Homo sapiens: one gene and its partners. The protein of the gene in region 1 purifies or fractionates together with the protein of each later gene. This does not show direct contact. Each region holds a gene or a part of one and is shown in the gene's direction. Other genes may lie near its edges.

What was found.
Region 2: the proteins of UQCR11 (region 1) and ZC3H4 purify together in Homo sapiens (affinity purification with mass spectrometry; one large-scale study listed by BioGRID and IntAct). This does not show direct contact.
Region 3: the proteins of UQCR11 (region 1) and DDX46 purify together in Homo sapiens (affinity purification with mass spectrometry; one large-scale study listed by BioGRID and IntAct). This does not show direct contact.
Region 4: the proteins of UQCR11 (region 1) and LEMD2 purify together in Homo sapiens (affinity purification with mass spectrometry; one large-scale study listed by BioGRID and IntAct). This does not show direct contact.
Region 5: the proteins of UQCR11 (region 1) and RRP36 purify together in Homo sapiens (affinity purification with mass spectrometry; one large-scale study listed by BioGRID and IntAct). This does not show direct contact.
Region 6: the proteins of UQCR11 (region 1) and DCAF13 purify together in Homo sapiens (affinity purification with mass spectrometry; one large-scale study listed by BioGRID and IntAct). This does not show direct contact.
Region 7: the proteins of UQCR11 (region 1) and SFSWAP purify together in Homo sapiens (affinity purification with mass spectrometry; one large-scale study listed by BioGRID and IntAct). This does not show direct contact.

The regions. Positions count from the first base shown.
Region 1 is NC_000019.10:1,602,663-1,606,754, reverse strand, and holds the start of UQCR11 (cytochrome b-c1 complex subunit 10), read left to right. Parts: upstream 1-1,292; 5' UTR 1,293-1,345; coding exon 1,346-1,395; intron 1,396-4,092. UniProt on the Homo sapiens protein: Component of the ubiquinol-cytochrome c oxidoreductase, a multisubunit transmembrane complex that is part of the mitochondrial electron transport chain which drives oxidative phosphorylation.
Region 2 is NC_000019.10:47,089,777-47,093,276, reverse strand, and holds part of ZC3H4 (zinc finger CCCH domain-containing protein 4), read left to right. Parts: intron 1-3,087; coding exon 3,088-3,310; intron 3,311-3,500. UniProt on the Homo sapiens protein: RNA-binding protein that suppresses transcription of long non-coding RNAs (lncRNAs). LncRNAs are defined as transcripts more than 200 nucleotides that are not translated into protein.
Region 3 is NC_000005.10:134,765,279-134,768,778, forward strand, and holds part of DDX46 (probable ATP-dependent RNA helicase DDX46), read left to right. Parts: intron 1-1,638; coding exon 1,639-1,782; intron 1,783-3,500. UniProt on the Homo sapiens protein: Component of the 17S U2 SnRNP complex of the spliceosome, a large ribonucleoprotein complex that removes introns from transcribed pre-mRNAs.
Region 4 is NC_000006.12:33,782,631-33,786,130, reverse strand, and holds part of LEMD2 (LEM domain-containing protein 2), read left to right. Parts: intron 1-1,611; coding exon of another isoform or gene 1,612-1,638; exon of another isoform or gene 1,639-1,670; intron 1,671-1,703; coding exon 1,704-1,779; intron 1,780-3,500. UniProt on the Homo sapiens protein: Nuclear lamina-associated inner nuclear membrane protein that is involved in nuclear structure organization, maintenance of nuclear envelope (NE) integrity and NE reformation after mitosis.
Region 5 is NC_000006.12:43,027,361-43,030,099, forward strand, and holds the end of RRP36 (ribosomal RNA processing protein 36 homolog), read left to right. Parts: coding exon 1-117; intron 118-1,731; coding exon 1,732-1,868; 3' UTR 1,869-2,239; downstream 2,240-2,739. UniProt on the Homo sapiens protein: Involved in the early processing steps of the pre-rRNA in the maturation pathway leading to the 18S rRNA.
Region 6 is NC_000008.11:103,441,670-103,443,953, forward strand, and holds the end of DCAF13 (DDB1- and CUL4-associated factor 13), read left to right. Parts: intron 1-1,125; coding exon 1,126-1,213; 3' UTR 1,214-1,784; downstream 1,785-2,284. UniProt on the Homo sapiens protein: Part of the small subunit (SSU) processome, first precursor of the small eukaryotic ribosomal subunit.
Region 7 is NC_000012.12:131,749,090-131,752,589, forward strand, and holds part of SFSWAP (splicing factor, suppressor of white-apricot homolog), read left to right. Parts: intron 1-3,500.

The DNA.
Region 1 (4,092 bases):
AAAACTAGCCAGGTGTGGTGGCTCACGCCTGTAGTCCCAGCTACTTGGGAGGCTGAGGCAGGAGAAGCTTGAACCCGGGAAGCGGAGGTTGCAGTGAGCCGAGATCGTGTCATTGCACTCCAGCCTGGGCCACAGAGCGAGACTCCGTCTCAAAAAAAAAAAGAAAGAAAAACAGTGCCCAGACTGTGGTGTCCAAAACCTATTTCCGGCTCCCACCCTGAGTCCTTAACCAGGGATAGGGATGGGTTAGCACCCGCAGTCCCCAGAGAGCTGCAGGCTTGGGGTGTACTGAGGGGCTGACCCCAGGAGGACAGGCCAGGCTGGGCAGAAGAACCCACGGTGTCCATTCCTTATCACGAGGCCTGCAAGTGACGCTGGCGCCCGAGAGACAAATCACGCCCAGTGCCCCGTCTAGGCTATGGCCTTTCCGTTCATGCTGTAAAGGTGCCTGTGGGTCAGGCAGTCCAGGAGGGCTTCCTGAGGGAGGCAACTCTTGAATATGGGGGAAAAGGCACAAAAGTGCAATGGCGGTGTCTGGGAATATGCCCCTCTTCCTTCTGCCCACACCGGCCCGGTGTGCAGGGGGGAGGCTGGAAGCTGGGAGCTGAGTGAGCATGTACGGTGCTGCGCCGGGTTGTGGGAGAGCAGAGGAAGCAGGGACTGGAGAAAGGCGAGCCCAAGCGAGCCTGGTGCGGTGGAAAGCAGGAGGCAGAAAGACCTGCCTGTCATCAGCTAAGAGCATCCAGAGACGTTCACCGAGCAAGGAGCCAGGCCACCCTCTGCTGCCGGAATGAGGAATAACCCAGGCTCGCAAACGGAATCCTGCAAAGAGATTTCCGACAGGGCCTCCAAGCAACGGGCAACGCTGAGGCTCAGGGAAGCACTGCCGCTCGACCAAAGTCCTACAGCGAATCAGGAACAACGCCTGACGCCTCCAAAAGTGGGCTCCAATCCCAGCTCTTCCCCTCTGTGTGACTCTGAGCAAGACCCTTCCCCGCTGGACCTCAGTTTCCTTCATTGTAAATAACGTTCTGGCACATACTAGGCGCACAAAATCACTGGCAGGTAGCCCCGCGGAGCCCAGAAGCACAATCGGCCGCCAGACCACGTGGCCAGAAAGCACCGCCCTAACGCCGCCCACTCCGGACCACTTCTCCGCGGTCGTCCAACCCTCGCCGGAAGTTACTGTAAGTGGCTTCCGGGTCTGCGCGCACAGTGGCGGATGATGTTTTTTTTTCCTCCCCCCCCCCCCGCCCTCCCCGCGCGCGTGCGCGCCGCGGCCGCGCCTGCGCAGTGTAGCCGGGTCAGCTGGACAGGGTCATCCTGAGGGTGCGACTCCGCCGCGATGGTGACCCGGTTCCTGGGCCCACGCTACCGGGAGCTGGTCAAGAACTGGTGAGGACGCCGACCCGCGGCCCCATCCGCGCTCCCGCCTCGGCCCAGCCCCGCGCCGCTGCGTTCCGTATTTGTGCGCGTTTCCGGGGGCCGGGCCGGGCCGGGCCCAGGTCCCTTGTTGTTCCCGGTGACAGAGGGGGAAACTGAGGCCGAGAGGCGGAGCGGCGCGTCCCGGCGTGAACGGGACGTGACGGACCCAAGGCCAAACCCCAGCATGCCCGGCTCCGCGGCTAGGCCGCTCCAAGCCTCAGTTTCCCCATCTCTACCGGGGGATCCGAATGGTGACCCCCTGGACGGAAGCGCCCAGAAGGTGCCGAGTCCCGATCCCCAGCCCAGCACTCGCGGCATCTTCGGCCTTTGCCACTATTTTGGTTTTTATGATTTTTAACAAGGAGCGTGAAAGCTTCAGCTGCGCCTGAGCCCACGTGGGCAGCGGGACGGCATAGGGGTGGCCCCCATAGAAGCCGGGCTGGGGGTGGCCTCCGTAGGGTTGTCTGGTGTTTCCACGTGGGGTGCTAAGAAGCAAGGCCTGGCTGGGTGCGGTGGCTCCCGCCTGTGATCCCAGCGCTTTGTGAGGCCGAGGCAGGTGGATCACCTGAGGTCAGGAGTTCGAGACCAGCCTGGCCAACGTGGTGAAACCCGCGTCTCTACTAAAAATGCAAAAATTAGCCAGGCGTGGTGGCGGGTGCCTCTAATCCCAGCTACTCGGGAGGCTGAGGAAGGAGAATCGCTTGAACCCGGGAGGAGGAGGTTGCAGTGAGCTGAGATTGCGCCATTGCACTCCAGCCTGGGTGACAGAATGAGACTGTGTCCCAAAAAGAGAAAAGAAAAAAAAAGCAGCAAGGTCTTAGCCGGGTGCAGTGGCTCCGGCCTGTGATCCCAGTGCTTTGGGAGGCCCAGGCAGGAGAATCACTTGAGCCTGGGAGTTCAAGACCATCCTGGACAACACAATGAAACCCCATCTCTACAAAACAAAAAATTATCAGGGCATGGTGGCACCTGTCTGTAGTCCCAGCTACTGGGGAGGCTAAGGTGGGAGGATCGTTTGAGCCTGGGAATTTGAGACCAGCCTGGGCAACACAGCAAGACCTTATCTCTACAAAAAAATTTAGAGCTGCTGGGCGCAGTGACTCACGCCTGTAATCCCAACACTTTGGGAGGCCAAGGCGGGCGAATCACCCGAGGTCAGGAGTTTGAGACCAACCTGACCAACATGGAGAAACCCCGTCTCTACTGAAAATACAAAATTAGCCAAGTATGGTGGCGCGTGCCTGTAATCCCAGCTACTTGGGAGGCTGAGGCAGGAGAATCGCTCAAACCCGGGAGGTGGAGGTTGTGGTGAGCTGAGATTGTGCCATTGCATTCCAGCCTGGGCAACAAGAGCGAAACTCCGTTTCTAAAAAAGAAAAAAGCAAAGGCTTATGATTGGCAGTGTCTCCGGAAGCCAGAACATACTTCCTCTATCCCAGACTGGGGGACAGGTCGGGGACAGGGTCTGCACGGTGGAGCTGACTGGGACCTTCAAGTGGAATGTGATGGTGCCGGTGGCGTTTTACAGCGTGGGTAACTCAGGCCTGGGATGAGGAAGCCTGCTCCTAGCTGAGAACCCAGTGGCCCATGGTAGCCAGTGCAGCCCCTCCCGGGTGCAGCAGGTCTGCTTCTTCTGTGTTCAGTCACAGCGGGGACCACCCGTCATCCGTGCTTTCATCCAACAGCAAGCATTTATTTATTTATTTATTCATTTATTTATTTAGAGACGGAGTCTTGCTCTGTCGCCCCGGCTGGAGTGCAGTGGCGCAATCTCGGCTCACTGCAAGCTCCGCCTCCCGGGTTCACGCCATTCTCCTGCCTCAGCCTCCCATAAGTAGCTGGGACTACAGGCGCCCGCCACCACGCCCGGCTAATTTTTTTTGTATTTTTTAGTGGAGATGGGGTTTCACCGTGTTAGCCAGGATGGTCACGATCTTCTGACCTCGTGATCCACCTGCCTCGGCCTCCCAAAGTTCTGGGATTACAGGCATGAGCCACTGCGCCCAGCCCAACATTTATTGAGCACCTACTATGTGTTAGGGACGCGCCAATAGACCGAACCCTTGTGGGCGGACATTCTGGTTGGTGGGCAAGGAAAGGTAAAGAAACGAGACCTGTGGTGTGGGGCTGACCTAAAATAACGAAGCGGGAGAGGAAGGGGTGCAGACACGTGCGTGCGAGGGGCCGTGCAGGGCTGTGCCACCAGGCAGTGGCTTTGGGAGGCTAGGGAGCGGGTCTCATCCCCAGGAGGCACTGTGGGGTTGTGTCTCAGAGTCTCAGACTTAGGACTGAGAGGGCCACAGTTCACCAGCTGGGGACCCTGCAGTCCACACCCCTTCTAGGCCCTGCTGGGGCTTGCTTTGAGGAAGGGGTTGTCGTGGCGACGAGGTCGTTGGTCAGTGTGGTCATGGTCTGTACGTCCTTCCTCAGTGGCTAGTGGAAATCAGGTTTTGTGGGCTCTTCCCACACTGTCCAAATCCACAGGGTCCTACATGGGGTGACCAGGATGATAGGGGAGGCGGAGGCCGGCCCACTGGGCATATTTATGAGCAGGCTTCTCTGGTGATTAATAACCCAGGGCTGGGCGCAGTGGCTCACGCGTGTAATCCCAGAACCTTGAGAGGCTGAGGTGGGTGGATCCCTTGAGGTCAGGAGTTCGAGAAGAGC
Region 2 (3,500 bases), about 45 Mb from region 1:
TTCCCCCAGAAAATCCCATAAGAGAAAAGCAAATCATTTTTTTTTTTTTTTTTTTTTTTTTGAGGCAGAGTCTCACTCTGTCGCCCAGGCTGGAGTACAGTGGTGCAATCTCAGCTCACTGCAAGCTCTGTCTCCTGGGGTCGCACCATTCTTCTGCTTCAGCATCCTGAGTAGCTGGGACTACAGGCACCCGCCACCACTCCCGGCCAAGTTTTTGTGTTTTTAGTAGAGACAGGATTTCACCGTCTTAGCCAGGATGGTCTCCATCTCCTGACCTCGTGATCCGCCTGCCTCGGCCTCTCAAAGTGCTGGGATTACAGGTGTGAGCCACCGCGCCCGGCCGCAAATCATCTTATGATTACTTTACCCAGTATTCGTTGGCACGTGGGTGTCCGGGTTTGGATGAGAAATGTTTTGTCTTGTTTGTTTATTTATTTATTTATTTATTTATTTATTTATTGAGACGGAGTCTTGCTCTGTCGCCTAGGCTGGAGTGCAGTGGGGCAATCTCGGTTCACTGCAACTTCCACCTCTCTGGTTCAAGCGATTCTCCTGTCTCAGCCTCCCGAGTAGCTGGGATTACAGGCATGTGCCACCTTGCCCGGCTGATTTTTGTATTTTTAGTAGAGACAGGGTTTCACGATGTTGGCCAGGCTGGCCTCGAACTCCTGACCTCAGGTGACCCGCCCGCCTTGGCCTCCCACAGTGCTAGGGTTACAGGCGAGAGCCACCGTGCCCGGCTGGTTGAGAAATGTTTTAAAGTTAGTAGGTCTTTAAAGCTGTCCCAGGTATCCCATGACCCAGCATCATCCATCACAACAAATGATTCATTGTCCAATACCATAGTTGAGATTGATCTACTGGTGTAGGTTTGGCCTTCAAACCTGAGGGAGGCAGGAAATGGAGGGAACATTGCGTGCTTTTTATGAACTAGAGCTGGAGGCATTTTAAAGATCTGCTAAAGTACTTGTATGTGTGTCTGTGTGTCTAGCTGTATTTTGCATTGTCCTGTTTTTCTATAATTCGGATTTTTTAAAATTAGTGGGCTTTATTGTTTGTTTGTTTGTTTATTGAGATGGGATCTCACTCTGTTGCCCAGGCTGGAGTGCAGTGGTGTGATCTCACCTCACTGCAGCCTCGAGCTCCCTGGGCTCAGGTGATCTTCCTGCCTCAGCCTCCTAAGTAGCTGGAACCATGGGCCATAACGCCAAGGCTAATTTTTGTACTTTTGGTAGAGATGGGGTTTCAAAATGTTGCCCAGGCTGGTCTCAAATTCCTGGGGTCAAATGATCTGCCCACCTCGGCCTCCCAAAGTGCGGGGATTGCAGACATGAGCCACCATGCGCAGCCGACTTTTTTATGCGTTCATTCATTCATTTATTTAGAGATGGAGTCTCGCTCTGTCGCCCAAGCTGGAGTGCAGTGGCACAATCTCGGCTCACTGCAACCTCCGCCTCCCTGGTTCAAGCGATTCTCCTGCCTCAGCCTCTCAAGTAGCTGGGATTACAGGCGCCCACCACCACACCTGGCAAATTTTTTTTTTTTGTATTTTTAGTAGAGACGGGGTTTCACTATGTTGGCCAGGCTGGTCTCGAACTCCTGACTTTGTGATCTGCCTGCCTTTGCCTCCGAAAGTGCTGGGATTACAGGCGTGAGCTACCACGCTTGGCCCAACTTTTTTTTTTTAATTTTAATTATTTTTTGAGACAGAGTCTCGCTCTGTCGCCCAGGCTGGAGTGCAGTGGCGCAATCTTGCCTCACCGCATCCTCTGCCTCCCGGGTTCAAGTGATTCTCACACCTCAGTCTCCCGAGTAGCTGGGATTAGAGGCGCCCATCACCATGCCCGGCTAATTCATTTTGTATTTTTAGTAGAGACTGGGTTTCACCATGTTGGCCAGGCTGGTCTGGAACTCCTGACCTCAAGAGATCTGCCTGCCTGGGCCTCCCACAGTGCTGGGATTACAGGTGTGAGCTACTGTGCCCGGACTTTATTTTAATTTTTTTGAGTTGTTGTTTCGCTGTGTCACCCTGGTTGGAGTGCAGTGGTGCAGTCTCTGCTCACTACAACCTCTGCCTCGCGGGTTCAAGCAATTCTCCTGCCTCAGCCTCTCAAGTAGCTGGGATTACAGGTGCCTGCCCCACACTCGGCTATTTTGTTGTTGTTGTTGTTGTTGCATTTTTGCATTTTTAGTAGAGATCGCATTTCGCGTCTGCATCTCCTGACCTTGTGATCTGCCCGCCTCGGCCTCCCAAAGTGCTGGGATTACAGGCATGAGCCACCGCGCCCAGCCCCCTGACTTTCTTTTTTAGAGCTGTTTTAAGTTTATTCAAAATTGAGCAGGTAGTAGTAGAGTTCCCTTCTCCCCTCTGCCTGCCCCCTTCCCTGCCTCCAGTTTCCCATTACCAATGTCTTGCATTGTTGTGGTAACTTTGTTAGAATTGATGAGCCGGTATTGATACATTGTTATTACTTAGGGTTGTATAGTTCTCTGGGTTTTGCCCAATACACACTTTATTGTTACATATTCGTCGTTACTCCATTGTCTGGATATACCAGTTTGTTATCCATTTACCTGTTGAAGGATGTCTTGGTTGCTTCCGTTTTTATGAGTATCTTTAACTTCTTCTAGTACCACTTGGCATTACCACACTTTGGAAAGCATCATTTGAGATGGCTGTCCAGCCTGGCTGCCAAGCAGGCCATTTATTGAATTCCAGGGCCCTAGGAAAATTGTGACCAAGCAGCCCCCGCCTGCTTCCCAGGCCCCTCCACGTGCGCTTGCTCTGCATCCTTGGGAAATGCTCCCTTCTTCTCCCCTTTGTTCATCAGGGATCGGGGGTCTGTGGTTCTGTTTTCTTTCTAGTTCTGGCCCTTTATGAAGAACAGAAACACTTGGGCCCGCTGCTACTCCCACTCCCTGGTACGAGAACCAGTCCCCAGAGGGGCTGGAGACCAGCAGTGCAACCCTGGGACAGTAGTGACACCCAGACAGACATGTTCGTTTAGGGAACCCTGGGTATCTTGGTAGTCTGCACCCACGGCTGTGGGATCCGGCTCACCTCTTTTCCCCATCTCTGGGACGCAGTCCCACCAGCAGTACCCCCCATCGCATGCCACGCCCCTGCCCAAGAAGGCATACTCCAAGATGGACAGCAAGAGTTATGGCATGTACGAGGACTACGAGAATGAGCAGTATGGGGAATATGAGGGCGACGAGGAGGAGGACATGGGCAAGGAGGACTATGACGACTTCACCAAAGAGCTGAACCAGTACCGGCGTGCCAAGGAGGGCAGCAGCCGCGGCCGAGGTGAGCCCTGCCCTTACAGTTTCTCCTCTGGGGCATCGGAGCCACCCGGGCCAACCCCGGTGGCCTGGTCTCACAGAACCTCAAGTTTGGTCACTTAGGGTTGGGATAAGTGTACAAAGAAGGGCCAGGCTCTGCATGTGCATGGCACAGGAGACCGGAGAGATCACCCGCTGGGCTGTGGTTGGGGTGG
Region 3 (3,500 bases), on another chromosome or scaffold:
CTCATGCCTGTAATCCCAGCACTTTGGGAGGCCAAGGTGGGTGAATCACGAGGTCAGGAGTTTGAGACCAGCCTGGCCAACATGGTGAAACCCCGTCTCTACTAAAAAAAAAAAAAAAAAAAAAATTAGCCAGGTGTGGTGGTGCATGCCTGTAAACCCAGCTGCTCGGGAAGCTGAGGCAGGAGACTTGCTTGAACCTGGGAGGTGGAGGTTGTAGTGAGCCGACATGGTGCCACTGTACTCCAGCCTGGGCGACAGATCAGGACTCCATCTCAAAACAGAAAAAAAGAAAATAATCTTCTGTGCACACCACACCCAGCCAATTAAAAAAAGCTTTTCATAGAGATGGGGGTCTTAACTGTGTTGCTAGTGGCCTCCCAAAGGGTTGGGACTACAGGTATGAGATACCATACCTTGCCCAGTTTCTCATTAAAATAGGAAAGGAAGACAAGATTGTGTTGTGAGTGGATCATAGAAAGAATTTAACTTTATCCTTTTCAGACATTGGAGTACATTGTTGTTACGTAGGATTCAGGGAAAATATTCACCCGTGACAATGTGGATAGCATTTTCACATTTTGTGGTCCTAGGAACAATTTCACACAATTAATTCAAGTACTTAAGTGAAAATGGTTATTTAACATTTGGTCTTTGACTTTTGGGTGTGAAAGTAGAATCACAAGATTTTAGAGCAAGAGGGATTTTAAAGATGTCTAGTGAAGTCTCCATATTTTATAGATGATGAAACTGAGACCCAGAAAGTTGGAGATCTGACCTTCATCATGTCATTAGTTACCAGGAGTAGCAGGATAGAAATTCTTGCCTCTTCATCTTCAGATTAGTGATCTTTTAGTAGACCCATTATGCCCATCCTTATACTTAGGTTTAGGCTATCTGAAACTAGATATTCTATCTTAGACCATCGATTTTCAATCGATGTTAATTACAGACTTATTATGGTTTTTTCACAAACATCTTTATGAAATTAGTATTCTCTGGCCTGGCATGGTGGCTCACGCCTGTAATCCCAGCACTTTGGGAGGCTGAGGCAGGCAGATCACCTGCGGTTGGGAGTTCGAGACCAGCCTGACCAACATGGAGAAACCCCATCTGTAAAAATACAAAATTGGCTGGGCATGGTGGTGCATGCCTGTAATCCCAGCTACTCAGGAGGCTGAGGCAAGAGAATCGCTTTAACCCAGGAGATGGAGGTTGTGGTGAGCTGAGATTGCGCCATTGCACTCCAGCCTGGGCAACAAGAGCAAAACTCTGTCTCCAAAAAAAAAAAAAAAATTAGCCGGGCATGGTGATGCACATCTGTAATCCCAGCTGCTGGGGAGGCTGAGGCAGGAGAATCACTTGAACCCAGAAGGCAGAGGTTGCAGTGAGCTGCAATTGTGCCACTGCACTCCAGCCTGGGTGACAGGTGTGAGACTTTGTCTTTAAAAAAATGAAAGAAATAAATTAGTATTCTCATTTTTTTCGTTGAGCACTTATAAGACTTGGCTTTACTTCATTGAGACCTCCACCTTTAATAATGGTAGTGATTAAGATTCTTTCAATGTGGGACAGAATCCCCTGATCTGAAATAGTAGCTCCATTTGGTCATAGAATAAATGAAAAGTGTCCCCCTTTCAGACGTTCCAGAAGTAGAGAGAGAGACAGAAGCCGAGAGCGAAGAAGATCTCGAAGTAGAGACAGGAGACGCTCAAGGAGTAGAAGCCGGGGCCGGCGATCCCGATCCTCCAGTCCTGGAAATAAAAGCAAGAAAACTGAGAATAGGTAATGTTATCATTGGGCTGCATCTATAGTGCAGACTGGGGACTGCTTCCCTTCTCTGCGCCTTTTTTTTTTTTCCCTGTAAGTTTGTATTTATAGAGAATTAACTGCATTTGGCTCCTACCATGAACTGTTGGCAGTGTTTTATTTTAATTGGCTATAATGTTTATAATTCAACTGGAAAATAATAGATTCTGTCAGTTTTAACATTCAATACATTGTATTCTTACTTAATACATAACTGTCAATCAGAAATGTATTTTATAGACATCTTTGTAGAAACTCTGTCATTTTCTTTTCAGGCAGGGTCTCACTCTGTTGCCCAGGCTGGAGTGAAGTGGCAAGAACATAGCTCACTAACCTTAAACTTGTAGACTCAAGCAATCCTCTCACCTAGGCCTCCAAAAGTCCTGGGATTATATGAAGAGGCAGACATAATATCCCAGCTAATTTTTATGTTTTTAGTGGAGATGGGGTTTTGGCATGTTTGCCAGGCTGGTCTCGAACTCCTGACCTCAAGTGATCTGCCCACCTCGGCTTCCCAAAGTGCTGGGATTACAGGCCTGAGCCACCGCGCCCAGCCAAGACTTGTCTTAAAAGTTAAGAAATTAGGCCAGGCGCGGTGGCTGACGCCTGTAATCCTTGCACTTTGGGAGGCCAAGGTGGGCGGATCACCTGAGGTTGGGAGTTGGCGACCAGCCTGACCATTGTGGATAAACCCCGTCTCTACTAAAAATACAAAATTAGCTGGGCGTGGTGGCGTATGCCTGTAATCCCAGCTACTCTGGAGGCTGAGGCCGGAGAATCGCTTGAACCCAGGAGGCAGAGGTTGCGGTGAGGTGAGATCATGCCGTTGCACTCCAGCCTGGGCAACAAGAGTGAAACTCCTTCTCAAAAAAAAAAAACAAAAAAAAGTTAACAGAAATTAAGACAATGTGCAATTTGTTTAGCAGTGGACAGACAGATTAGTGAACCATGTAAAGAGCCCAGAAAGGCATCCATACACATGGTAATTTGATAGATGACAGAGGTGATGATGTAATAAGTGAAGATTTTTTTTTTTTTTTTAACAGCCAAAGTCTCGTTCTGTTGCCCTGGCTGGAATGCAGTGGTGCAATCTCGGCTCACTGCAACCTTCGCCTCCCGGGTTCAAGTAATTCTCTTGCCTCAGCCTCCCGAGTAGCTGGGACTGCAGGTGTGTGCCAACATGCCCAGCTAATTTTTTGTATTTTTTAGTAGAGATGGGGTTTCACCGTGTTAGCCAGAATGGTCTCGATCTCCTGATCTCGTGATCCACCCGCCTCGGCCTCCCAAAGTGCTGGGATTAAAGGCGTGAGCCACCGTGCCTGGCCAGAAAAATTTTTAAATTGCTCTAGGGATATCTAGTATCCTTTTATGAAATAAGACTGCCTACCTTATTCTGTGTACAAAAAGCAATTCCAAGCAAAGACCAAATTAGATGGCAAAATTCTAAACCTTTTAGAAGTTTGTGCCAGAGAGTATCTTCTTCTTCACCTCTAGGTATCTTACATCAAATCTGGAAGGATTTCTAAACTACTTTAAAAAGCACCAATTATAAAGGAGAAAAAAGGTTGACTAATTTGATTACATTAAAATTAAGAAATTTTATTCATTATGAGATGCCGTAAGTTGGGGTGCGTAAACAAGTTGGGTTTATTCCAAGAATGGCAGGTTATTTTAACATTAAAAAATCATTAGAA
Region 4 (3,500 bases), on another chromosome or scaffold:
AGAAGATATGGGGCAGTAAATTTTCAGGTCTTAAATTGTACCAGGAGGAGTCTTGTGCTGCCAGAGGGCATGACTTAGTAGTCTAATTAAGTGTGCAATGCCTGGCCTCCCAAGTCCTTAGTTAACATCTCTAGTAGCCCAGGGGCTGGGAAAGAAAATGACGCATGGTCCTCTGGCCAGCCCTGCATTGACTGTCTTACTCATGTAAATGAGGGGGCATCCTGGTGCAGATAACGGCTTTTATTTCTCTTTGGCTTCGGGTGTGTCATAGTTGGGGGTGTTTTATTACATCCATTTATTGGATTCATCCACCAAATATCTTTGCTTCCCAATTGTTTTGTAAAAACAGATTCATAGTAAGTTTAATCTGCCTTCTATCATAAAAACTGTAGTTGATGATGAGAGGAAGTGGCCCAGAAACACAGGCAGCCAGAGGGGAAACTGGAATTTGAAGACTTAAAACAAAAACAGGAAAAAATAACTTTCTGTAAGACTTCTCAGTGCTGTTAGTTTTGTCTTTTAATTAGAAAAAAGTTCCATGGTTTCTATTTCTTGGTCCTTCACATCTCTAAATGAATCAGACCCACAAGTGAATGGCACATTTGTTCCCTGGCCTTCTCTGATCTGGACACACTCAGGCTCCACTTGAGTGAGCCCAGACAGGTACCCTCCAGGTCCTAGCTACAGATGCGCTCCGTGGGCAGACGGCATTCAGCACCTGCCAGCGAGGGCTTCAGACGCAGATATCCCTATTTGTAACCATTCAGACCTTCATCAGAGCATCAGAAAGCAGGGGCTGGGCCATCTCAATGCAGGCTTTGTGGAGCTAAGATTTCATGGGGCACCCTTGGCCTTTCTGGAGGGTGGACACAGGAACAAGCAGGTGGGGACGTGTTTCTTGGCTTTGGTGAGGCTCTTGCTGAAAGTCTTATTCTTTGCATGGCTCCAGGCTTACCGAGATCACAGACGGGCATTTGAATTTCAGATTCATGTTCTTTCCCTTTTCGGTCGTTGAAGACGGTGACACTTTGTGTTTTTCTTTCTGCCTTTGTGCTGCTGAAAACGTGGGGACAGGCTGGGAGTGGGTGTGTTGTCTTAATCAGGCCGTCTCGTTGTCTGGTACCGTCTGTCCTCCTGTTTCCTTTAGGTGGTAGCAGCCTCTGCTGAGTGGTTTGTGTGAGTTCGCACTGAATCCTACCACAATCCTTACTCAGATGAGGGCTCTGAGATTCCACCTAACGGGAGACGAGATGGCAGCTGCTGACATTCTGCCCTGTCTGCAAGCTCTCCTAGCTCTTCCAGCTCTCCCATCTCTGCAAACTCCGACAGCAGTTGCTCTTCCTCTGAGGAAGCTGAGCGACTGCATCATCCCCCGACCACGTCGCCTCTGCTCAGCCCTCTTAATGGCCGTCATTCCAAGGGAAAGGCAGGAGCCAGGAGCCTCTGGGATGCAGCCCCTTGGTTACAGTGTCTGCTTTCAGCTTTGCCTCTGCTTCTCCAGGGTCTTTCTCAGGCAGTTAACCCAATATTTATCAACTCTCTCCCTAGGCCCAGCACTTGGCAGAATTTTTTTCTATTTTGTAAAAGTATGAGATATTCCTTGCTGTTTAGTATTTGACAGTGTGGCTGGAGAAGTAAAGATGGACAGACGGACCCCTCCCACCCACCCCTCCTTGCTGACCACTTGTCCCGTGCCTTTCCAGTTCTGTCAGGCCAAGCAGAAGGCAGCCTTGCTGGAGCTGCTGCATGAACTCTACAATTTCCTGGCCATCCAAGCTGGTGAGTAAGTCACGTAAGTCCTGAGATTCCTCTTGTGAGAGCTATGGGCGGCTGACCCGGTTCATCAGGCTTAGTTACACTGCTGCTGGCCAGCGAGACACTCCCTGGTTGTCTCTCAGAAGGCATATTCAGAAGCCGAGTCTCACCTTCTCGCCTCCTCACTCAGGCACATCTTTTATAAGCCTTGTGTTTGAACAAAACATATTTGATTCTTGCTCCTCTTTAAGGGAGGTCCTGGCATGTGAACAGGCCTTCCTGCAGCTGTTCTTCCTTCTTGGGGATGCCCACTACCTAATGCTTTGGGGGTCTCTGTTGGCATGGGAAGGGGCCAAGCCCCAGGTGTTGTCAGGATCTGTGTCCTTCACCCTAGAGGGACCCTCTGAACCAGGTGGTTGGCTGGGCCCGGGAGAGGCCTCTTGCCTGTGCAAGTAGCAGATAGTCTGTGTAGTGGGCCCTGGTGTCACATCTGGTCCTGATCACCATGTGGCTGTGGGACCTCGGACAAAGTCCCTGATCCTCTCAGGGTCTTCATCTCCCTGTCTGACCAAGGGCTCTTGGGTCTGTCTGTTCTCTACAAATGAGAGTCAAGTGCTGTCCTCTAAAGGAGGGCATTCTCAGCACCTCTGTGAAATGCCCCTGAAAATGCATCCAGAAGATGCATCCCCTACTGTTTTATTTGGTGAAGTTATTCCTTGAGGCCAGAGATACCACCTGCATTATTATGTCCTGCCCGACGCCTGGCATCCAGGAGGCTCTCAAAATCACTTGCAGTTGACATAGGTGAATATCAGCATGTGCGCCTTGTGTTAAATGCGCTGGACACAAGAACCAGACAGAGCAGTTCTATCTTAAGGGATATTCAAGAGGCGCCTCTTACCTGTGGGGTCAGAGGACAGGTCTTAGGATTGTGAGGTCAACCCTTGTCTAAGGTTTCACTGGGAAATTAGGGTCGGGTGGACTTCTCCTGGGCCCTCAGTCCTCAGGGTCAATCTCATGAGCATCAGCTCTTCTGCCTCCTCCCTCTTGAAAGTGAGAGATGAGATGGTAGGGGAGGCATCCATGAGCACTTGGAGGAGAAACAGGTACTGGGGCTCCTGCTCACAGCATCATAGGAATTCCTCTGTACGGCCCAGGTGCTTGGGATGTCAATTCTGACCTAAGAGAGTGTTCCAAACCTTTGTGTCTCAAATGTGGTCCAAGGACCCATAGCATCTGCATCACGTGGGAGCTCACTAGAAATTCAGAATCTCAGGTCTCATGCCAAACCCAGTGAATCAGAGTCTGTATCTTAAGATCCCCAGGGGATTTGAGTGCACCCTAAAGTTGAGAAGCACTGCTCGAAATTGGGTCCTAGTAGATATTTCTCCTCCATCCTACCCTCCATATGTGGTCTTGCCTTATGCCCTCAAGGGCCCTGGCACCTGTTGCCCTCCGACAAGCCTGGGGGGCCGCCTTGAAGGTACATATCTCATTGAGACAGGAGTGTGCCTCACAGAGGCTCCCTAGTAGTCCTCAACCCCTTCCATGCCTCTCCTGTTAGGGATCCGCTGTGGGCTGGGCACTGTGCAGGCCCTTGCAGTGAGATGACTCAGCTCCAGGTCCTGCCTGCAGGGCCCAACCCCGGCTTGGGGTCTACTGGAAGAGACAGGCCACCTACCTCCCTGACCACTGGGTGATATAAAATGTGATTAGACAAGAACCAAGAGGCCAGAAGTTCTGGG
Region 5 (2,739 bases), on another chromosome or scaffold:
AGCAGCAAGAAATGGCACAGCAGGAACGAAAGCAACAGCAGGAGCTGCACCTGGCCCTGAAGCAAGAACGTCGGGCTCAGGCCCAGCAGGGCCATCGGCCATACTTCCTGAAAAAATGTGAGTTGGGCACAACTGTTGCTAACAGGGACAGGGGTGCAGGGGCCATGGTGGTAGAGTCTTGTGTTGGGGTGTCCCTGATCCCCTTTAAGGAAGGCATGAAGGCTGGATCCCATGGTAACTTGGAGGAAAGTAGAAATAGTAGGGAGTTGTTTGTAACCAGTCTTGTATCCCTAATTAGATCATGGCAGGCATTGTCACCTTTATTTCTTGGTCTACACTCCCCACTTCCCAACCCCCCCCCCCCAACACACACACAGTGAGTTTTATCTCTTGGTCTACACTACACACACACACACACACACACACACACACACACACAAACACAGAGTCAGTTTTATCTCTTGGTCTACACACACACACACACACAATCAGTTTTATCTCTTGGTCTATACTACACACACACACAGAGTTTTATCTCTTGGTCTACACACACACACACACAATCAGTTTTGTTTCTTGGTCTACACTGCACACACACACATGCACACACGCTGGGCCAGGCACATAGGTGTTCATAGTTGGTTGAATTGAGTAGTACTGAGATCATATAAAAAGTCATCAGTTGGGCTGGGCACGGTGGCTCACGCCTATAATCCCAGCACTATGGGAGGCCAGTGTGGGGGGGTCACGAGGTCAGGAGTTCGAGACCAGCCTGGGGGCCAACATGGTGAAACCCTGTCTCTACTAAAGATATAAAAAAATTAGCCGGGCCTGGTGGCGTGCACCTGTAATCCAGCTACTCAGGAGGCTGAGGCAGGAGGATCACTTGAGCCCGGGAGGTGGAGGTTGCAGAAAGCCTAGATTGCACTGTTGTACTCCAGCCTGGGCAACAGCGTGAGACTCCATCTCACAGGAAAAACAAACAAACAAAAAAAAGTCACCAGTTGGGCCGGGCGCAGTGCCTCACACCTGTAATCCCAGCACTTTGGGAGGCCAAGGAGGGCAGATCACGAGGTCAGGAGTTCAAGACCAGCCTGGCAAACATGGTGAAACCCCGTCTCTACTAAAAATACAAAAATTAGCTGGGTGTGGTGCTGTGCATCTGTAATCCCAGCTACTCAGAAGGCTGAGGCAGGAGAATCGCTTGAATCTGGGAGGCGGAGGTTGCAGTGAGCTGAAATCGTGCCACAGCACTTCAGCCTGGGTGACAGAGTGAGACTCCATCTCAAAAAAAAAAAGTCACCCGTTGGCCAGGCGCAGTGGCTCACGCCTGTAATCCCAGCACTTTGGGAGGCTGAGGAGAGCGGATCACCTGAGGTCAGGAGTTCGAGACCAGCCTGGCCAACATGGCGTAACCCTGTTTCTACTAAAAATACAAAAAAATTAGCCATATGTGGTGGTGCGCGCCTGTAATCCCAGCTACTCCGGAGGCTGAGGCAGGAGAATCACTTGAATCTAGAAGACGGAGGTTGCAGTGAGCCGAGATCGCGTCACTGCACTCCAGCCTGGGTAACAGAGCAGGACTCCGTCTCAGAAAAAAGATAGAGGGGCACCAGTGAGCTTTAAAGAACTCATGTATCCAGCATAATGGCTTGGAGTTACTGACCTGGTTTGGGAAAGAATAGGGGCTTCCTTCTTTGTTCACCAACTTTCATTCTCCCTGTCATTTAGCTGAGCAGCGCCAGTTGGCACTAGCTGAGAAGTTCAAGGAGCTGAAACGCAGCAAGAAATTGGAGAACTTCTTGAGTCGAAAGAGGCGACGAAATGCAGGCAAGGACAGGAGACATCTCCCTTTGAGCAAAGAGTAATAAGGAACTATCCTCTGCTCTGCCACTGCCCCAGGGAGACATGGATCTGTGAGGACAGATTTGGCCACGGCTGGTTTCCGTTCAAGGGCAAGGATCACAGCTGCCCTTGAATCTCATTGCCTCAGAGAAGACTAGAGGGCTCTTGGACTATCCCTAGGGCTACACAAGAATAGTTCAGCCTTCTGCCATGCCACACAGCCTCAGCTTGAATCTGGTTCATTGCGTCCTCGTGTTCTTCTCTCATCCTTGCCTTAAACCAGGGATTCTGATACCGAAGAAGAGGGGCCAATGAAAACCATGGAGTCTGTTCGTGACTCCCAGGGCTGGGACATTATGTAGGAGCCACTTCATAAACATTCTCTTTACTCATCTTTTTATTCTGTTTTTTGTGGCCTTCTTTTTGTGTTTCCCCCCCGAAACAGAGTCTCGCTCTGTCACCCAGGCTAGAGTACAGTGGTGCAATCTCGCCTCACTGCAACCTCCACCTCCCAGGTTCAAGTGATTCTTGTGCCTCAGCCTCCCGAGTAGCTGACATCCGCCACCAAGCCCAGCTAATTTCTTTCGTATTTTTAGTAGAGATAGAGTTTTGCCATGTTGGCTAGTTTGATCTTAAACTCTTGGCCTCAAGTGATCTGCCTGCCTCAGACTCCCAAAGTGCTGGGATTACAGGCGTTGAGCCACCGTTCCGGCCTTAAGGCCTCTGCTTTTATGTGGGATTTGTGGGTAGCCTAGAACTACTTTTTAGTGGGCCACATATTGGGATAGGCAATAAAGCCTAAGGCATCTACAACTGGGAAGTCAGATCAGAAACCCCTCCCACTTAAATCTGGGCCCCTCAAGGATGACAAGATCATTTAGTGGGTGAACCAAT
Region 6 (2,284 bases), on another chromosome or scaffold:
TCTCACCAAAAACAAAGTTAACTGCCATTCAAGGGAGTAGTTTATGTGCTATTATTTAATAGTATGTTAGTGATGTGTTTGAAGACTTCTACAGAAGGCCTTTTCTTTTTTCTTTTTTTTTTTTTTGAGACGGAGTCTCGCTCTGGAGTGCAGTGGCACAATCTTGGTTCACTGCAAGCTCCGCCTCCCGGGTTCATGCCATTCTCCTGTCTCAGCCTCCTGAGTAGCTAGGACTACAGGCACGCGCCACCATGCGCGGCTAATTTTTTGTATTTTTAGTAGAGACAGGGTTTCACCATGTTAGCCAAGATGGTCTCAATCTCCTGACCTCGTGATCGCCTGCCTCGGCCTCCCAAAGTGCTGGGATTACAGGTGTGAGCCACCATGCCCCGCCCAGAAGGCCATTTCTTTTTCTTTTTCCCAAAAAAGGGAAGCAGTGACTATCTGAGAATGGGAGAACTTCCATTACCTGTTTTTGAGAATATGTTTAAAGGACAAACGATGAAAATGAGTTACCAAAATAAGAAAACACTTGCTCATATTAAAAAATTATTGTAAAAAATGTTTTAAAAAATAATTTCTGATGTAGCTGGAATTAAGAGATTTTGTGTATTTTCCAAGTTAAAGAATTAATCTATAGTAGAGCTCTTTTCTTAAGTAAAAAGTGTTCTGATATACTTTATTATAACATGACATCTATCATTTTGGATATAGAGCAGAGCTACTACCACCACCACCATTTCCCGTGAAATATTCTTCTCTTTGAAATACTTGAAGTCATGCATGAAATTCTAAGAGCTCTTTATTTTTCAATTAGAATATACAAATGGCTCTTTTTTTCTGTCTTTGGGTAGATGTTGCAGTAGAATCACTTTTAGAAATTTTATTAACTGTGGAAGGTTTTTAAACTTAGTAAAGGACCCTATTAGGTAAATATGATAAGAAGCAATTAAATAAGTAAAGTTGATTTCTTGGTACTAGCTTCCTTTTACCTATTGTCATCGTGAAAATATTTTTTTAAATAGGTGTTTTTCTAGTGAAAGAAAATGCTTTGATTTTTCTGAGAAAGTTTTCTTTAAGATGAGTTCCCATAACTTGCTTATATTTTGTATATTTTATTTCTAGGGAAGTGAATCGTATTAAACACAGCAAGCCTGGATCTGTGCCACTTGTGTCAGAGAAGAAGAAACACGTAGTGGCAGTTGTAAAATAATTGGTATTCCTAACAATCCTGATGTATAATTATTTGTTACTTTTGATTTGAGAACTCTACAAATAAAAGTGCTGGGACTAGATTAATTGCAAACATTTTAGTTATATGTGTAGAGCTTTATTGTTACTCCTTTTAGCTACCCTGAAAAATGATCCTTAAAGGTGGCCTAGTTGGTAAGACTGTTTTATCCTTAATCTGCATTCTTCTTTCATTGTAGAATACAGTATTTGCAACTCATTTTTTCTTGTTTTTATTACAGATATACTTACTTTCTCTTTGATCTATTATTGTAGACACTATACATTCAAATTGACATTTAAGACCAAACATCTCTTATGTTATCTTTAATATTACTTTGAATAATGATTGCAATGATGTTTCTTCCTGTGATTCCACATAACATTTAGAATAATGATGTCAATTTTTTACAACTGAATTTATTTCTAGTGCTTTACTTATATTTGGCTTTTTGACTCTTTTAAAACAATCAGCCTGCATTTATATAACTTTTATAAATAATAATATAATTTGGGTCAAGTTAAGATATTAAAAGTTCCTTTCAGCATTGAAACTTTGGCCTATTTTTGGTAAATAATTTTCAATCTCACTAAATCCTAAATAGCTCTGTGTAACATAGGTTTTTCTTTTTTTAATCATCAACTTAATAAACTTTATTATAAATATGTATAAATCCAAATTTTAGGAGATGTTAAGTAAAGAAGAGATTTTAAAATCCAAAGAAAAGAATGTGTTAAGAATACAGTCATCACTCTGTATCTGTGGGAGATTGATTTCAAGATGTACCATTGATGCCAAAATCCAAGGATGCCCAAGTCCTTGATATTAAATGGCATAGTATATGGATATAACCTCTGCATATCCTCCCAAATACTTAAAATCATCTCTAGATTACTTATAATACCTAATACAATGTAAATGCTAAATAAATAGTTGTTATACTGTATTGTTTAGGGAATAATGATGAGAAAAAAAGAGTCTGTACATGTTCAGTACAGATGCAATTTCTTTTTTCCAAATGCTTTTGAGCCACAGTTGGTTGAGTCTATGGGC
Region 7 (3,500 bases), on another chromosome or scaffold:
AAAATAGGCTTCGTGTTAGATGATGTCATCCAGCCGTCAGCTACTGTAGGTGCCCTGAGCACATTTAAGGCAGGTGAGGCTGTGCCATGGTGTTCGGTGGGTTATAGGTGGATTCTGTGCATTTTCCACTTCACGGTGTTGTCAGTGTATGGTGGGGTTGTCGGGAAGTAGCCTCGCTATAAGCCCAGGAGAATCCCGGCATGTCGTGGCAGCCTGAGGACAGCAGGAGCCCCTTGGCACACTGTGCCCTCCCCCGTTCATGACTAGTAATGGCACAGTTATTGTAAAGCTGATGTGGCTTTTGCCAGCCCAGACTTCAGTTTGTAGACTACAGCCCAGCTTGTAGATTTTATTTCTGTTGTCACCCTGTACTAGTCCAGAAATTCTTAAAATTTAGTGTTCACGAGAATTGCTGTGTACAACATACAAGGGGCTGTATACAAAATCCCTGTGTCCTATAGTTGGTAGTCAGTTTAAAGGGCTTCAGTCCAGTTAAAGGGTTCTGTGAGCTGTATGGTGCCACCATTGTGTGCGGCACGTGTCAAGCAGCTTCATGGTCACTGCAGGATATTTTAGCACTGAGGCATTTTAGAAGCAGTCCAGGCCGTGCCACCAGCTGGCATGAACTCACTCATTAAACACTTACTGAGGGCCTGCTCATGCCAGGAGCTGTGTGAGCGGCTAAGGTTTTGTGGTCACTATTTGGAGATATGGAGTCCTTGGGAACATAGCTGCACACCAGTCCTAGTGGCGCAGGAGTTGCCATAGGGCGTTGTTTACAGGGTCCCCACGCGAGCCCAGAGCAAAGGCCTCCTGAGTCTGCCAAGGAGGCAGAGGCTTCCCGAAAGAGGTGGCACTGGAGATAAGCTGAATAGGGGCCTCATGGCAGGCAGAGACCCTGTGAGGCCGTGCAAAGGACAGAGACCTGGGGAACAGAAGCCAGGGCAAGGGGTGGGCTGGGCAAGCGGCAGAAGCCCTTCGGGAGGCTGGCCCTGGGCTGCTCCAGATGACTTGTGCCCGTCCTGCCTCCCACCAGGGCCACAGTGTCTGGGGAAGGATGGATCTGACGTCCTCCCTTAGATCTTCACATCCCTGACACCCTATGAAGTGAGAATCTGGGAGAAGCAACCCAGGAACGGTGTAGCGGAATTCATGAACCACTGTGGTGTTGGTTCCCGGGCTGCCTCCGAGCATGGCAGTGCCATAGGACACGTCCCACATTCTCTGTCGGCAGACAGAGAAGTGTTTTCATCTCATCAAGCAACACATACTTTATTTCTCTTGGAGTCCTTTTGAGAGACAGGATGATTTTCAAATTTGATTAAAACCTTGGAGAGAATCACAGGTGTGTGTGGGGAAGAGGTGACAGCAGCAGTGGCTAGCAGCAGACCGCCTCACAGAGGCTGCGCGTGTCTCGGCTTCACAGCTCTCCTCTGTGAGAATCTCCTGGGTCTGGGTCAAGGGTGTGCCCAGAGCATTGTCAGCCTGAGTGGTTTTTAGCGTGGAGCCTCTGAAGCAAGTTGTGGACCTAGGCTAGGATGTCCCTGGAGTGTTTTCAGATTTGGGCATTTGTTTCATTTTTACACCTACAGGCAGCCTTTTTTTCTTTTTGTGAGCTCAGCTCAGGGGCTCACTCCATCACCCAAGCTGGAGCACAATGGTGCCATCAACACCTCACTGCAGCCCCAAACTCCTGGGCTCAAGCCATCCTCCTGCCACAGCCTCCCAAGTAGCTGGGACTGTAGATGTGTACCATGCCCAGCTAGTTTATTTTATTTTATTTTTTGGAGATGGGGTCTGATGGTATTGCCCAGGCCTGAAGCATCCTCCCACCTCAGCCTACCAAAGTGCTGGGATTATAGGTGTGACCCATGGCACCCAGCCTAAATTTTTCAAATTAGCTGACATTTTTGACATTTGTAGTGGATGAGTCTCTGAGCAGTCTGCCATTTTGCCGGCACTGCTATTTTTTTTAACACTTCGTTTTTATTTAACAAGATGGAAGGCTCAGGAAGGTCATATAGACTAACAGTCTGCGTGTTCTTTAAAGGAATGGCGCTCAGCTTTGAAAACAGTTTCTTCATCTCTGTTGTGTTCCAGTGTGATTGCACTTTACACAGTTACATAAAGAATGCAGGTATCAGGTTGGAGCTGCATAATATGTACTACTAGTTGAAATAATTATAAACCGTTTTGTTTTGTTTGTTTTTGTGAATTCAGATCCCGTCCTTTGTGGCCCCAGTTTAAAACATGTTTGGACACTTTTTAGGGGTGAGACTGACTGTCCAGAGCAGGACATGGGGTTTCCGTCCTTCCTGCTGAGGTGGGAGGCTGGAGACCTGACAGTAGCCAGTCGGTAGTGGGGTCAGTTCCGCCTGGCCCTCCCCAGAGCTAAGCACACACTGGGCTGCACTCTCTCCCCTGGAGTGCTGGCTTCGCCCTGGCTGAGAGGAAGCATCCATACATAGTAGCCTGATGGCTCCAGCAGGGAGTGGGTGGAAGCAGCAGCTCCCCCCTTCCAGGGATGACGTTGTCTCTTACAGAAGCACATGCTTATATTCGGATTCCTGATTTTGATAGGAAGCCTATGTTGGACCATCAGGTCAGTTCGTTGGTCCAGCACATACTCTGCTCAATGCAGAGGCTGCAGAGACAGTGAAGACAGGACCTGCCGCTGCAGGAGCCTCAGAGACGGTGCCTGCCCTGCTGTCAGCCTCCCATTGACATCCAAGGGTCTCATCCCCTGCTCCCGGCCTTTTCTCAGAAATGTTGCTCAGATATATCTGTGTTGACGATAATGTGGAGCACATCGAACCCACTTATCTTATTTTGAAAATTTGGAGTATTACTGTTTCTGTGTCATGGTGGTTGGTGTGTAACATGGAGCTAGAGAACAACGGTTTAGGAGTTCATCATGTATAATTAATTTAAATAAGTCATTAGCAGCTGGGGAATATGCCTACAGCACATAGGAATTATGCTGCCTCGCCAATCTAAGATGGAAAGGTCAAGATAGTCTAAGTTGTACTTCTGAAATTTTTCTCTGCATAGCATACATTACTGGAAACCATAGTTAAGCTTTTACTGTTTTTCAATGTTATTGTTTTAAGGTGAATTGATTGAAAGTGAAGATAAAAGTTCTTAATTCGAAAAATATTTTTGCCATCTCCTAATAAAGAGGAAATTAAATCTCTGTGTAGTCAGAACTACTTGCTTATCTACAACAGGACTGGAAATTAAATTTCGTAATTAATCATTGAATCTTCTGTGATTCGTGGTTCTGAACATTTAACCCCAAAAAGGATAAATGTACAGGATTTTTAATTGTTAAGACAGCGTGCCTCTACCCTACAGATACCTGCTTGTGTGCACAGCATAGGTGGCAAGACGGCATACATCACTGTCTGTGATGGAAAGGTCCAGACACAGCCTCAGTGCCCCTGGGAACTTTTATTTACTGAATAAATTCCTGCACAGCCTGTGTTGCTGGGGCCGGGGGC